Regions from separate parts of the Homo sapiens genome. Here region 2 is linked to region 1. Evidence: fine-mapped expression QTL. Tissue or cell type: whole blood. Region 1 holds a variant in brackets; the other region holds the start of a gene. All regions are shown on one strand. Distances are from middle to middle.

Evidence for each region. PIP is the estimated chance that this variant, and not a neighbour inherited with it, causes the effect.
Region 2: it holds the start of DNMBP, and the variant in region 1 is fine-mapped to the expression of DNMBP in whole blood (TOPMed, PIP above 0.99).

What each region holds. Positions count from the first base shown.
Region 1 is chr10:100,197,431-100,205,630 of GRCh38, forward strand. It overlaps CHUK (component of inhibitor of nuclear factor kappa B kinase complex), which reads right to left. Exons shown (of 21, transcript NM_001278.5): 12 at 7,646-7,769; 13 at 7,076-7,227; 14 at 4,658-4,719; 15 at 3,241-3,350; 16 at 2,541-2,590. Among named protein-coding and RNA genes, the nearest start is that of ERLIN1, 16 kb to the left of the region's middle. The variant T/C (reference allele first, on the strand shown) is at 3,209.
Region 2 is chr10:100,005,331-100,013,490 of GRCh38, forward strand. DNMBP (dynamin binding protein) reads right to left here and starts at 4,617. Exons shown (of 17, transcript NM_015221.4): 1 at 4,508-4,617. RefSeq lists enhancers at 1,044-1,123, 1,674-1,733 and a silencer at 4,390-4,909.

The DNA of each region.
Region 1 (8,200 bases):
AGTTCTCAAACTTTTTGGTCTCAGGACCCCTTTACACTAGAAAATTCTTGAGAACCCCAAAGGGTTTTTCAGGAATTAAACAGAAATTTAAAAATACTCGTGTCTTAATTCATTTAAAAATAACAAACCTATTGCCCATTAACATGTTTTTATTAAAAACAAACAAAAAAACCTATATTTACGTTTTCTCTCTCTCCTATATTTAGGTTTTCTCTCTCCTGAAACTCTACACTCCAGTCATACTGCATTTCCTCAGACATGCTAAGTGCTATACATACATGTGTCTACACAGTATACTCATATCTACGAGAGCCACCTCCTTTCACTGGTTACTGCTACTTGAGATACTTGGAAGCCTGAAGTGGAAGGATCACTTGAACCCAGGGAGTCCAAGGCCAGCCTGGTCAACATAGCAAGAGCCCACCTCTAAAAACAAAAACCAAAAAACGATATTTTCTAAAACAAAAAAATTTGAGTGAGAACACTTGCACTGTTTTACATTTTTGCAAACCTTTCTGATATCACCACTAATCTCATCAGAAAAGTTTTTAAGTACTGAGAAGCTGTCATTCCAGCTGGTAAATACAAGTTTTCTAAAATTCTTTTTGCTTGAAACATGGAATTTTATCATTGACAACAAATACTGCTTTTTTCCCTTAAAGTAATAAGTGTGCTATACTTTTTATTTTCATTTAATTTCTTAGAAATTATCTCACGTATGCAAATCTGAATAATCATAGTTTGCCTGACAGTTGCTCTTCCAAGTAAAAATGGTATCTTCCCTGAAAGAGGCCAGACAACTAGCAACGTAAACAATTACTGAAGTGGTTTTCCTTAAGACAACCATCATACTTCACTGTATAGAAGAAACACTTTATGAGTACTTCCCATTTCATCACACAAAATATTAAAAACCCATACTCAAGCGTTGAGATTTAAATAAAATAATATTTTTACTGCTTTATCAAGGACATTTGTAAGTGAAACTGTCATTTTTTAAAAACTGTGACTGCATGGTGGTAAAAAATATAACGGCTACTAGCATAGTTTGGCGCTAGTGCCTTGATTCATACTAAGGTGAAAGCCATTTTATGTTGCACCATCAATGAAAATGTCAACATGGTGAAAAATGCAAATAACATCTTATTATGAAAATGGTTCTAACCTCACAGACTCTCTGACAAAGTTTCAAGGATTCTCACAGGTCCATATGCCACATTTTGAGAACTGCTGGTCAGACTAAACTGAATACATTTCAGTAAAATAAAAGCAGTATAAGAGGAGATAATGTTATTTTTTAAATGTGAAAATAGTATATGAAATACAATTTCACATGTATATTAATTTGCATGTGTTGCTATGTGTCTACAAATTTTAAAGTGTAAAAGTATATCTTTTTTTAACATGCATTTAAGTATAATGCACATTAGGGCACAGACTTTATTTCTTCTGTTACCCTTCAAAACAAATTTTTAACTAAATGATAATATCTTGCAAGTACATAATAGTTTATAGTTTTCAAAGCATTTTCACAAACATCCTCTTAAATACACTGTCACAATATACTCACTGAGTAGGAAAGCTAGGTTTCAACCCCATTTTGCAGAAGAAGGAAATGGGAAACGCAGATTTGCCTGAGGTAACGGTCAGTAAATTACTCAATCTAGAATTCAAGCCTCTGATTCCCCATCCAGTACTCTTTCCAGCAGACCTTGCTCAGTATTTAGCAGATGTTCAACTGGAATTATTTTGCCAACAAAACAAGTCATCAGTGACCAGTGCAGATGAAGGCATTATTTTCAAAGCAATCTGCTTTGGCCTAGAACAGCACAGGCCTTCCCTCTAACCATTCCATACCTGAACCCACTGCCTCAAATTCTTTCCAACCTCTATAATATTTTTTTGTTTTGTTTTGAGACAGAATCTCGCTCTGTCACCCAGGCTGGAGTGCAGTGGTGTGATCTTGGCTCACTGCAACCTCCTCTTCCCAGGTTCAAGCGATTCTCCTGCCTCATCCTCCCAAGTAGCTGGGATTACAGGCACATGCCAACATGCCCAGCTAACTTTTCTATTTTTAGTAGAGATGGGGTTTCACCATGTTGGCCAAGCTGGTTTTGAACTCCTGACCTCAGGTGATCCACCCACCTTGGCCTCCCAAAGTGCTGGGATTACAGGCATGAGCCACCACAACTGGCCCAACCTCTCTAATCTTAAGCAACACTTATTTTTTCCATCTTTCTAAACATTTTCTTGCTGCTTTTTCCTCTCTGAGTTCCTTTTTTCTGTCTTCCATTCTTTCTTTTCACGTCCCCTTCTAAAATTTTTCTACCTCACGTTCTCTGTTACTTTCTCTTTATCATCTCCTAAATTCTCACAATCTTAAAGCTTATTATACCATGTCTCAATGGCAATACCAAAACTGGAATTTATTCTGCAGCTTTAAGAAAATTTTTAACTTAAAAATATTAGATCCCCCACATTTGTTAGGCTAGTGATAGTTACCTAAAATGCCTTCAAGCACTGTGGTAGAAGTGTCTTACCTGAAGGTCTGTGTTTTAACTGCTTATATAGATCAATGGCACGCTGTTCCCTATAAAAGAGAAAACACGCTCTGATAAGTGAAGGTAATTTAATGACTTCAATAATCTACAACTTGAAACAATATTTTATTTGAATAATGAACCCATTTTAAAGCAAGTTCATATTGCCAACAAGTATTTCACAGAGCATTGTATTGAGTAATAAGAACTATACAAGTTCTTAAAATGCAAAGTTTAATATAGTTCATATCTATTCTGATCTATCATGGGGACATCTCTGCACCACAGACACTTAAAAAGACAAAAATTATGACCTATAATTCGAGAAAATATCTGAAGTTTTTAATCCAGAACTTTAATTCAGAAAAAATTTCAAGTTTTAGGGCATTTAAGAGTCAATACCTTGGACCAGAGGTATAATGAGTAGGGAAATAGTTTGTAACTTAGTTATACTTGGAAAATTCTTAACACTCCTATGAAATAAATGCTTTTATTAAAAACCAAAAAAGGCCAACCCAAAGAATTATTTCCGAAGTTTCCTGTGACTGAGAAAAAGCTTCCATTTTAAATATAATGCCAATATATTTGGGGAAAGGAAAACTATAGAAAAGAACCACTAGAGGTTTAATTTGCCAGATGTAAGCAGAAAGAATACAAAATATTACAGA[T/C]GTCAAGACCAACAACACAAGTGCATCCTTACAGAGATTCCATCAAGTCTCCCTGACGTCTTCCATAGGGGCTCTTCTGTAGCTCCATGATTTCAGCATGCAAAGACATAATCTGATCCTCCAGGTATCCAATGACACCAACCTAAAATATGATGAAAATACAAAGGAAATGAAAGGCTTACCACTACATCATAGGAAACAAAATTCAGATCTTAAGGATACAGAATGACTTGCTGCTTCATTAGAGAACTAAATAATATAATACGAAACACTGATTTTGTTAAAGCCTTTCTATTCTTCAGATTCTGACACTTAATCTTTCACATAAGAACATACTTAGTCTTAGTCTTCTCTCTTTTCTCTCCTGACAACAGTAAACTACTAGTATTTGCTTTTACCTCCGGAGAAGCAAAAAGCTACAACAGGTATCAACTAACAAGAAAGAAAAAGGACCACCAAAACCATTGGTATTACTTGTATCTTGGCTCTATGATTTTGACTGCCCCCTGGTCCCCACTACCTTGAATAGGGACACAAAAAGATAAAGAACTTGGATTTCCCACCCCAGGACACCATGGGTATCCCCACCCACATCCTCAGGGTAAGTACTGACATTAAGGAGTGTAATAACTTAGGACCGTGGACAAATGTACAGGATAAGGGGAAAAAATCTGCCACCTAGAGAATGAGCTATACCTAGGGACACCATATAATTTATTGTCCAAACCGGCATAATTTTGAGAGTGAAAGGGACTACTACTGATAATTATGGCAAGACATTAAGTATAAACTGGGACAGTCCCAGGTAAACCAGGATGTGCAGCCATCCTATCTAAACCAGTCACAAAAATAATAGTGACAACTACCATTACTGACTCCCATTTAATCTTCATAACCCTACTAGAAAAGAAATTGTCCCTATAATATGGAAACTAGCTGGATGTGGTGGCTCATGCCTATAATCCCAGCTCTATGGGAGGCTGAGGTGGGAGGATTGCTTAAGCCCAGGAGTTTGATACAAGCCTGGACAACATAGTGAGACCCCGTCTCTACAAAAAATGTAAAAGTTAGCCAGGCATGGTGGTGCACCTCTTGTCCCAGCTACACAGGAGGCTAAGATGGGAGGACTGCTTGAGCCTGGGAAGTCGAGGCTGCAGTGAGCTTTGATCATGCCACTACACTCCAACCTGGGCAACAGAGTGAGACCCTGTTTCAAAAAATAAATAAATAAAGGAAACTGAAGCTCAGTGAGGCACTAGGTAATTTTCCCAAAGCCCTTGTTTTTAATCACTATGATACATCCCTCTTTATATACAAAGCATCTACTAGAATTTTGTCTGAATTTCAGGAATGACATGAAAAATGCTCTTTATATATCAAAACCAAAGATAGTTTCTAATGGAGACATCAAGAATTAATAAGTATACAGAATGACGTCAATGATTTTACCTCAGCATAGTGGATGGCCTTTTCTTCCATTTCTTTCCATGCTTTTAGCATTTTTTCTGAAGCTAAAAGAAAAGTCTAAATTGGTTATCTCAGAAATAGCCATATCTTTAATTACTGGCTGCCTGCCTCCTTGCCATATCAACATCAAAGATGTGTTATGAGTTGAATTGTGGTCCCCCAAAAGATATGTGGAATTCCTAACCCCTAATACCTCAGAATGTGACCTATTTGGAAATAAGGTCATTACAGAAGTAATCAGATAAATTAATACTCATACTGGAATGGTCTGGGCCCTTAGTCCAGTACGACCAGTGTACTTAGAAGAGACACAGGATACAGATACACAGGGGAGAATGCTCTGTGACAATGGAGACAGATTGAGGTGCTGCAGCTGTAAGCCAAGGAATGCCAATGATGGCTAGCAGACCATAAGAAGCTAGAGAGAAACAAGGAAAGATTCTTCTCTACAGATTTCAGAGAAAACATGGCCCTGCCAACACCTCAATTTTGGACTTTTAGCCTCCAGGGCTGTGAGACAGTAAGTTTCCATTGCTTAAGCCACTCAGTTTATGGGATTTTGTTATGGAACCCTTAGGAAATGAATACAGATGACTTTTTTCTTAAAAATATATATATTTATACCAGTGTGCAGATGGGTGGATAAAGGAAAAAACAACAAAAAAAATTTTTTTTTGAGGTAGAGTCTCACTCTGTCACCCAGGCTGGAGTGCAGTGGCATGATCTCAGCTCACCGCAACCTCTATCTCCAGGGCTCAAGCGATCCTCCCACCTTAGCCTCCTGAATAGCTGAGGTGTGCACCACCATGCCCGGCTAATTTTTACATTTTTTGTAGAGATGGCGTTCTACCCCATGTTGCCCAGGTTAGTCTTGAATTCCTGAGCTCAAGGGATCCACCTGCTTTGGCCTCCCAAAGTGTTGGGATTACAGGCGTGAGTCACCACCTGGCCAGAAAAGAAATTTAATACTTGAATATGATTTTTAAAAATTAAATACTATAAAAGGATATAAACAGAAAAGACTCTCTCTTCTACCCCTCTACCATCCACCTCAAGGGACCTTACTATGATTATCTGTTACATAGACACATAGCCTGCTCCCTCACAAGTGAAAACATCTGTATACTCTTTATTTTTTCCCACAATTTAAAACTGTCAACTAAAGACTTAGGTGATCTTTTAATAAAAGCACATATAGATCTACCTCATTTTTCTTTAACAATTGTATAATAAGCCTTTGACAAGTCTAAGATATTTTAATGAAATAATTATAATGTTTTATCACTCACCAGAATGTCAATAATATACAAATAGAAATAAAATATCAATAATATATAAATAGAAATAAAATATCAATAATATTAATAAAACCAGTTCTGGAGAGTAAATTCATTCACCCAACTGGACACTATTGATTGTTTACTCTGAGATACACAGAGTTTGCTCAGGACAAGTATATGTTTTTAGGAAACAAGTATTTGTTTCCTAAAAAGGATTTGTTTTATAAAAGAAAACAGAAATGCTGGTAGTATGACTCCTTCAATTTACTCATATTTTAACTCTGTTTTTTTACACTTCCTTAGTACATCTGAAGGAGATAAGCTTGGAGTCAAATATGGAAAATTTGGAGACTGTGTACACTAAAAAATAGTAGGACTCCACAGTAGATGGTTTGAAAAAAACATAGCCTTAGAATATTTGTGTCATTATTTACAGAAAAGTAAGCAGTTTAAGACTCCCCTGGTTGTCTTAGTCCATTTGGACTACTATAACAAAATACCATAGACTAAGTGCCATAAAAACAACAGAAATTTATTTCTTATAGTTCTGGAGGCTGGGAAGTCCAAGAACAAGGCAGATTTGAGGGCCTGCTTTCTGGTTCCTAGATGACCATCTTCTTGCTCTGTCCTCACATGCAGAAGGGATGAGGGATCTCATTCAGGTCTCTTTTGTAAGAGCATTAATCCCAAACAGGAAGGCTCTACTCTCATGACCTAATCACTTCCCAAAGGCTCCACCTACCAACACCTTCACCTTCAGGGTCAGAATTTCAACATATGTATTTTGGGGGGGATACATTCAGTCCACAGCACTGGCTAAGAAGTCCAGATTTTGTATTTATTTTAAAATCAGGTTTGAAATTCAAGATTATTAAATCGCACCTGTATTTTTTTAGAGCTAAATAATTTTAGCCCAATTGTGAAGCTAAATTGCTCAACTAAGCAAATTTAAAAAAAGAGGTAACATTCAAAACAAACATGGTTTATGTTAATTTAAGTTGTCCTGTCTCTTGTTCTAATGTGAAGGTAAGTAAAACAACTGGCTGAGTTAAGAAGGCAAAATAACAGATGGCTTCAAGAAACCAGATGCTCCTTTCAAATACATTACACAGACACTTACATATCCCATACGTCATCTGCTCGCTGTATCTCTCCAAGTCAAGCTGAATGCTTTTGTGAAAAAACTCCAATTTAGCTTTCAGTTGTTGTGATGCTGAGATCAAAGTGTTCTTCATTTTTGTTAAGTTAGCATTATATCTAAGAAGACTTAACCTAAACCACAGCAAGAAAAAAAAGAAAAAGAAAAAAGATATTATCAGCATTCAGAAACATTGAACAATAATGTAAAAACATAAACTGCCACAAGGCCAAAGCCTAAGTTTCTATTATCAATCTATGAGAAATAACTGAGCTCTAGAATCTGATCTCTAAAGACTTCCTGCCTATAATATTTTGTGATAAACAATCTTTTTATACTAGGACCGTATGGGAATTATTACCCTCAAGCCATTACAATAGAATGGTCTCAGTCCATTAGTAAGAATTCTACAAGTTTATCAGAACATTACACTTCAAATTGGCCCAGTATGTTACTATTACATGCAATATTGATTAGTGAAAACCGGCAAGATTAATTCTTGAGTATATGATGCACATTGCATTGTGCTTATAAACAACAGAATCCACTTACATTGCTGCCCTTTGTCCCTGAAAGAGCCTGCTATAGTCTTCTTTTAGTCCAGACACATAGTGCACTGCTTCAGCCCACACTTTACGCAGCTGTATAATTGGAAGCTGTATTTTGCTGTCCTGTACTATATACAAGAAGATGAGAAAAAGGGCAAGGGAGGTTAGTTACTTTTGAGGATTTTAGAGTTGATTTATCATTCTTTGTGATTTCCTGTCCACACAAACAGGATTCCCATAGATGCTAGAAACTGATGCTAAAAGAACCACTTGTTTCCATTTAATTCAGTTCAATATACATTTACAGAGCACCTGCAATACTTAAGCCCCGCTCCACATACAAGGGGGGAAATAAAAATGACACAATCGCTACACTCACAGAGCTTGAGATTATTCCTGTATCTGTCTTTTTTGCTTGCTTTTCTGCAACCTGGAATACTCTTTTTCTCTCTGCTAATCCAAATTATTTCTTTCAAGTTCTAAATCAAGTCCCATCTCCTCTGAGTCTTTCCTACCTCTGAATAATAAATTTCATATTCTGGACCAACAATCCAGGTTT
Region 2 (8,160 bases), 190 kb before region 1:
AACTTGAGTAACCACTCACTACACAGAGAGCAGATAAAGCAAAACCAATGGATGCAAACAGCATGGGGTATAAATGCAGCATTCCAAAGCAGAGAATTAGACACATAACAATATGGATGGATCTTAAAAACACTACTCAGAGACCTGGCATGGTGGTTCATACCTGTAATCCCAGTACTTTGGGAGGCCAAGGCAGGCGGATCACCTGAGGTCAGGAGTTCGAGACCAGCCTGGCCAACATGGTGAAACCCCGTCTCTACTAAAATACAAAAAAATTAGCTGGGCGTGGTGGCGCATGACTGTAATTCCAGCTACTCAAGAGGCTGAGGCAGGAAATGGCTTGAACCCGGGAGGCGGAGGCTGCAGTGAGCCGAGATCTCGCCACTGTACTCCAGCCTGGGCAACAGAGTGAGACTCTTGTCTCAAAAGTCTCCAAAAAAAAAAAAAAAAAAAACCAAACTACATAAAGGAAAATGAATTACAGCATTATAAATCAAGATACATACACATAAAACAAACATTCCCACTTTGCAAGCTCCTACATAAACAAAAGGAAGCACATGCAATGCATTAAGAATGAACACCTGTGAGACATGAGATGAATGGGACAAGGGAATTCTACAACAAAACCAATCTTTTAGATTCCTTGCGTGTTATAAAAGAAAAACTCTTATGACCTACGATAAACACAGAATTGTTTCCTTCCCCAAAGTTCCCAATTTTCCAAACAACAAAAGCTACTCTGGTTGCCAGTTCTGTTGATGAGTAACAGCTTTTCATCCTTTTTCAATCAGGAAGGGAAAATTCAGGGATCAGCAAAGTACAAAAGGGATGAGCAGAGAATATTTACGAAACAGTGTTTTTGTTCTCATGACCTGACAATCTGACTGAAAAAGACCTGATTACCTCTTGATTTGGGATGATTCAGCTACAGGCAGGTTGGTGTCAAGTTTTCAGGTCATCTGAAGCGATTTACTTTCAGAACCTCTTCCCACGCAATCCTCTTGCCTCCCTGTAGAAATAATACCCTGCACTACTTGAAAACTTAAAATTCTTGAGCTAGAGAGGGCCCAGTTATTTTACAGATGAGGAAACGAAGACTCAGGGAAGAATTATGGTGTGAGTCACACAGCTCTAGCTTGAAAAGGTCTCCCTGACTCAGCCCTTGTCCTCTTCCTGTCTATTCTCAACCCAGCAGCCAGTTATCCTTTTAAAACATAAGTCATCATCAACTTCACTGTTCAAAGCTCTCCAACGGCTTCCCCCTCACTCAGTGTAAAGGCCAAAATCCTTACAATGACCTACACTGATGTGTCCTCCCCACTCCCACCCCCTCTCATCTGCTGCCACCTCCCCCCAACCCACATCCACACTGACTGGCCACCATGACCTTGCCACCCCTAACATGCCAAGCATGCTCCTGCACCAGGGTTTGGAACATGCTCATCCCACTGCCTCCTGCTCACTTCCTCATTTCCTTCCAGTCTCCCACCATGAGTTAGGCCAGGTGTGGTGGCCCATGCCTGTAATCCCAGCACTTTGGGAGGCCAAGGTGGGTGGATCGCTTGAGGCCAGGAGTTCCAGACCAGCCTGAGCGACATAGTGAAACCCCGCGTCTACTAAAAATACAAACATTGGCCCAGCGTGGTGATATAAGCCTGCAGTCCCAGCTTACTCGGGAGGCTGAGATGGGAGGATCACTTGAGCCCAGGAGGTTGAGGCTACAGTGAGCTGTGATCACGCCACTGCACTCCAGCCTGGGTGACAGAGCAAGACTCTGTCTCCAAAAAAAAAAAAGTTATCTCAGTAGAGGCTTTATTTGACCCCTCTATATAAAAAGTAAATCCCCTACCACACATATACATACACACACACACACTCTTACCCTTTCCTGACTCTAAAGTTCTCCACAGCATTATGATCCTTTGACCTATTCATTCACATATTTGTCTGTTTCCACCCAATTAGAATGTGTCTGTTCCACGAGGGCTTAGTCTGTTTTGTTCAAACTGGTTCCCCCTCCCAGCACCCACAGCATACACAAGTGCTACCACGACCCCGGCACACACAGGTGCCCCCCACAAGCACATACAGGTGTTCCTCCTCCCGGCACACACAGGTGCCCACCCTCTCAGCACACACAGGTGCTCAGTGAGAATGTGTTCAGTGAATAAACAAGTAAGGACCAAAAGCCATGCCTTCAGACTCCTCACACAATGCCCTATGTGCCTGCCCTCAAGTGCTGGTTCAATTCTTGGTGGTCACGTCCTTCAGTCAGAAGAAAAGATCTAGAAATCTAAAAATGAAATAATACATTTTAGCTACTCTATTTCACCTCCCACAGCTGCCTTTCATAGCAGGGAGGATAAAGAACACAACTAAAAGTTAACATCTTGGTTTAACGGCTCTTTCATTAAAGAGCTCATTTTACTGCTGCTACTTAAGAACTTTCTGCCTTTCCAGGCAAGAAACTAATAACTCATAATTAACTCCTGACCAACAAGACTAAGTTAACCAATCTTGAAAATTAGCTTATTCAGATGTTTTCCAGAGTGTGTATAATAAGAAACTATTTCATATTAATTGAATTGGTGTTGCAAAACTTTCCAGAAGTATTCTGAATGAATTCTAAGGATGCTTTGGCAGATGATCAAGCACATTCGAGAATTTCACAGGAGATAATCTCGTAATAATACCATGTTGTAGGTAATCCATTAGCTGACTCTAGAAACAACAGAATACTAAACCTAGAAAATAAGCCAAAAGCCAGGCTCGGTGGCTCACGCCTGTAATCCCAGCATTTTGGGAGGCTGAGGCAGGCGGATCACCTGAAGTCAGGAGCCAGAAAAGAGGAAGAGATTGATGGAACGTTGAGGGAAATGCCCTGCCTTGGGGCTGCAAGACAAATAAATAACTGGTGCATATTTAAACAGATCGTTTATGAAGATTATTATTATCTCAGCCAAAAAATACACAATATGAACACTGTATAAAAGTCAATTTATCACATTCTCTGAGTCAGACTGTTCTTGGCTTATTGCAAAAGTTATCAGTGCACTGCACGAACCCCGTTCCCAAGCCAGACTTGAGCTACTCTCCACCCTCCAGAAATCACTCCATTGCAGCCTCTGAATTTAAGTGAATTTAACACGTAAGTATCTGCAATTTGAAAAGTCACTTTTCACTTATTTTAGCCCAACCCTGATAAAGTGACTGAGAGAGCTGAGAATAATGAATTTGAAGATTCGCTATGCCCCATTATGCAGAATTCTAAAAATCTTTTCTTCTTAAAACATTTTTATTATCACAATGAGTGACGTGTTTCAAGTTAACATGTAAAATCGGAGAACTCGAGACAGAAGAGGACCTTAGAGATCCTTTAATTCAATATTTTAGAGAAAAATGGGTAGAGGATAAACTAACTTGCTGATCACCGTGTCGGTATTCATGCTGTGAAAGTAATAAACGGAACACCAACTGAGAAATGATCCCCGAATGCTGTCAGGTACTTCAGTCTTGCAAAAACTACTACAGATTAATCAGTCCTGCTCATCCGTTTAACTCAGCTATGTAAACAAGCAGAGCTAGACTATGCTCAAACCCTAAATATTAGCGTTACCACTCGCCTGCCACATACTACAGCATCATTAGTTATGAAAGTGTTTTAATACAAGATCTTCATGTTTGTGTAAAAGAATTACTATAAAACAGACCTAAAGGCAAGTTACCCATATTCCAGAATAAGTGAGTGCCAAAAATATTCACCCTTCATTACAGTACAAATGAGACAGGCAGTAATAATGAGACTGCATTTAAAGTTGTTTTTGCACTTAAAATTTAAGTCTATACTCCTCATCTGCATCAGGCCCCGGCCTGTTTGGTAACCTCAATATTCCTTTACTAAAGTGACAGCATCACCACCCTTTGAGACACAGATGCCCGGTGGACATCTGTGCCTGCAGCAGGAACGCGGGTGTCCGCGGGTTTCTGCAAAACTCCACCATGACCAAAGCTGCATCTCCAGCTGAACAGGTCTAACCCTTGCTTCGGAAGCCATCTGTCCCTGTCTCCCTGACACAGAATCACGGCCTCCTATGCCGTAAGGCTCCGAACATCTGTAAAATCAGCGGGGTGGACTAACGCAGAATTCTTTTTCCAGCTCTCAAAATTCCGCCTCATTGCCGGAGTGGCAGGGCGGTGCAGAGAAAGAGCCCTGGGCTTGACACCGCTTGAAAAGCCCACGTTCGCATTGCTCTGACCACCCCTCCAACTCCCGGGGACTACAGGAGTGCGAGGGGGCCCGCTGCGCCCCACTGTCCCTCGCGGGCTCCTGGCCCACAGAGCGCAGCACAGCGCCGCCGCTGGGAAAGGGCCGATACAGGCCTAGCCGCGCGGCGCGGCGCGGCGCGTCTCTCGGGGTGCGGGTCCCCTCCGCCCGCGGCCCCGGACCGCGACCCCCGCTCCCCGCCCGGCCCCCGCCCGGCTCCGGCCTGGCCCGGCCTCTGACCTGCTTTCCGCCGCCCGGCGGTCCCTCGGCGCGGCAGGCAGTTGCAGCCGCCAGTCCCCAGCCCGCTGTCACCTCCGCCCCTGGAAGCGGCGGGCGGGTCGATCCCGTGTGAGTCAGCGCGCCGCCCCGCCTCCCGCTCAGGCTTCCGCCTCTGCCGGCGCGGTCCGCGCGGCCCCGGGGGCGCCAAGCTCCGCTGCCCGCGCGCCCACCTCTCCGGCGCCCGCCCCGCGCTCGCGCCCCCTGGCGGCCGGCCCGGCCCTGCTCGCCTCGCGACGTCAGAGGGGCGTCGCTCCCAGAACGGCCACCGGGGAAACTGAGGCACGGGGGCCCGCCCCCGCCGCAGCGCGCCGACACGGCTCGTCGGGCCTCGGCCTCACGCAGTCCTACGTGCAGCCCCGGCTGCGGACAAGTTCCTCCACTCTTGCTGTTCCCCCACTCCCGACACCACCCTCCAACCTAGAAAAAAGTCAAAATTCCATTCAGAGAAGTCCAAGTCGATTCCTGTCTGCGTGTGATGCTGTCCTCTTTGCTACCCCGAGGCAGTTTCCCTTATTATGCCACACAATACTCGCTGGGGTTCGCCTCTATCTGTCCCATTTTTTTCTGAGGAAAGTCTCTCAGGACATCTTTGAGAATTTGAGAGCAAGAAATGACAGAAGCAAGAACTGGGCAGGGCTGTCAGAACTCCTCCTCCGACTCAGTTTCTGAATCCCCGCAGTATTCCCGTTGTTTGTTTAAAGACCACGAAGTTACACAGCTTGGCTATGTTGCTGGAATTGCTGCGCCTCACGTTTCTGGAATCTACCTAGAGGATTCTGAAGAAGGCGGCGAGTCTATGACTGTGCATGCACAACAAAAATAAATATTTCACAAATCTCATCCCATGCTGTATATGTTTCTCCTTCCCTTTGCTTTTTAAAAACTTGTGGTTAAATATATATCACATGAAATTTACCATTTTAATCCTTTTTAAGTGTACAGTTCAGTGGCATTAAGTACATTGACATTGTTCTGCAACCATCACCACCATCCAGCTCCAGAACTTTTTCATCTTCCCAAACTGAAACTGTACCCATTAAACACTAACTCCTCATTCTCCAGCCCCTGGTAACCATCATTCTACTTTCTGTCTCTATGATTACTCTGGATACCTCATATAAGTGGGATCATACAATATTGTCCTTTTGTGAGTGGCTTCTTTCACCTAGCATAATGTCTTCAAGGCTCACCCATGTTGTAGCATGCGTTAGAATATCCTTCCTTTTGAAGGCTGAATAATACTCAATTGTACGTATATAACATCTTTGGTTTATCCCATCTTTCTGTGGACATTTGGGTTGTTTGTACCTTTAGGCTATGGTGAATAATGCTGCAATGAACATGGGTGTACAAATATCTGAGTCCCTACTTTCAATTCTTTTGGGTATATATCCAGAAGAATTGCTGGATCATGTGGTAATTCTGTGTTTAATTTTTTGAGAAGCCACCATACTGTTTTTTTTTCCTTTGCTTTTTGAAGCATGTTAACACTGTAAAGAGAACATTTTGTAGTAAAATATCAACGTTCGGAGAGTCTTTAAAATTCTTAGCAATGCTTCATTTGCCTGTAAAACTGTGACTTTTCGGCGGATCACGAGGTCAAGAGAACGAGACCATCCTGGTCAACATGGTGAAACCCTGTCTCTACTAAAAATAAAAAATTAGCTGGTCATGGTGGTGGGTGCCTGTAGTCCCAGCTACTCGGGAGGCTGAGGCAGGAGAATCGCTTGAACCCGGGAGGTAGAGGTTGCAGTGAGCTGAGATCGCGCCACTGCACTCCAGCGTGGTGACACAGCGAGACTCCGTCTCAAATAAATAAATAAATAAATAAATAAATAAATATTTTAAAACAAGTGACTTTTCTTTCCTCAAGAAAGTAATTAACATTGCAAATCTATTGTCTTTATTTTTGGATAATGTTATTAGCCAAAATAAAAATAACTTATTATTCAGTTTCCTACAATTTTGTTTTCTGTGGATGTAGCTTTCTAAAGTTGTTTGGAGTCAAGTATGCCATATGAAATTCAGATGAAAAATCAAGCATTTCGTTTTATTTATTTTTTTCGCCACGTTGGTCAGGCTGGGCTTGAACTCCTGACCTCAGGTGATCCACCCTCCTCGGCCTCCCAAAGTACTGGGATTACAGGCATGAACCACTGCGCCCAGCCTGGGGATCGGAGTTTTTTGTTTGTTTGTTTTTTTGAGACGGAGTCTCGCTCCGTCTCCCAGGCTTGAGTGCAGCGGCGTGATCTCGGCTCATTGCAAGCTCCGCCTTCTGGGTTCCCGCCATTCTCCTGCCTCAGCCTCCCGAGTAGCTGGTACTGCAGGCGCCCGCCACCACGCCTGGCTAATTTTTTTTTTGTATTTTTGTAGTAGAAACGGACTATCACCGTGTTAGCCAGGATTGTCTCCATCTCCTGACCTTGTGGAGTTTTTAAAGATAATTTGGCTGGTGGGGTCTTGAGAAGTGGGGAGTGCTGATTGGTCAGGTTGGAGATGGAAACATAGGGGGTCAAAATGAGGTTTTCTTGCTGTTTTCTGCTCCTGGGTGCAATGCAGAACTGGTTGAGCCAGATTACCGGTCTGGATGGTGTCAGCAGATCCATCAACTGCAGGGTCTGCAAAATATCTCAAATACTGATCTTAGGTTTTGAAATAGTGATGTTATTCCAGGAGCAATTTGGGAGGTTCAGGCTCTTGGAGTCAGAGGCTGCATGACCCCTAAACTGTAATTTTTTTTTTTTTTTTTTTTTTTGAGACGGAGTCTTAGTCTACCGCCCAGGCTGGAGTGCAGGGGTGCAATCTCAGCTCACTGCAACCTCCACCTCCCGAGTTGAAGCGATTCTCGTGCCTCAGCCTCCCTAGTAGCTGAAATTACAAGCATGCACCACCACGTCCAGCTAATTTTTGTATTTTTAGTAGAGATGAGGTTTCACATTGTTGGCCAGGCTGGTCTCAAACTCCTGGCCTCAAGTGATCCATCCACCTCAGTCTCCCAAAGTTCTGGGATTACAGGTGTGAGCCACCACTCCCGGCCTTAAACTGTAATTTCTAATCTTGTAGCTAATTTGTTAGTCCTGCAAAGGCAGACTGGTCCCTAGGCAAGAAGGGGGTCTTTTTGGCAAAGGGCTATTATCAATTTTGTTTCAGAGTCATGAACTGAATTCTTTCCCAAAGTTAGTTCAGCCTATGCCCAGGAATGAACGAGGACAACTTAAAGGTTAGAAGCAAGATGGGGTCAGTTAGGTCTGCTTTCTTTCACTTCATAAGTTCCTCAGTTAAAATTTTGCAAAGGTGGTTTTATACTTTTCATTTATCAATGAATTCTTACTGTACATTTGTGATGTAACAGGCATTGTGCTAGGTGTTTGGCATTCAGGCTGACCAACACAGACAAGATCCTTGCCTTCATGGAGCTCACATTCTAGAGTAGGGTAACAGACAATAAAGAAATAAACAAATGATAATCCAGACAATCATGGGGTGTAGTTGAGTGTTATGAAGGAAACAAACCAACTGATGCGATAGATTAGATCACAGAGAATTAAAGCCTAGTGCCCTAGGCATTTGTTGTATGTAATGAGTTAACTTCTCTCCTATGCAATGTTGGGGCT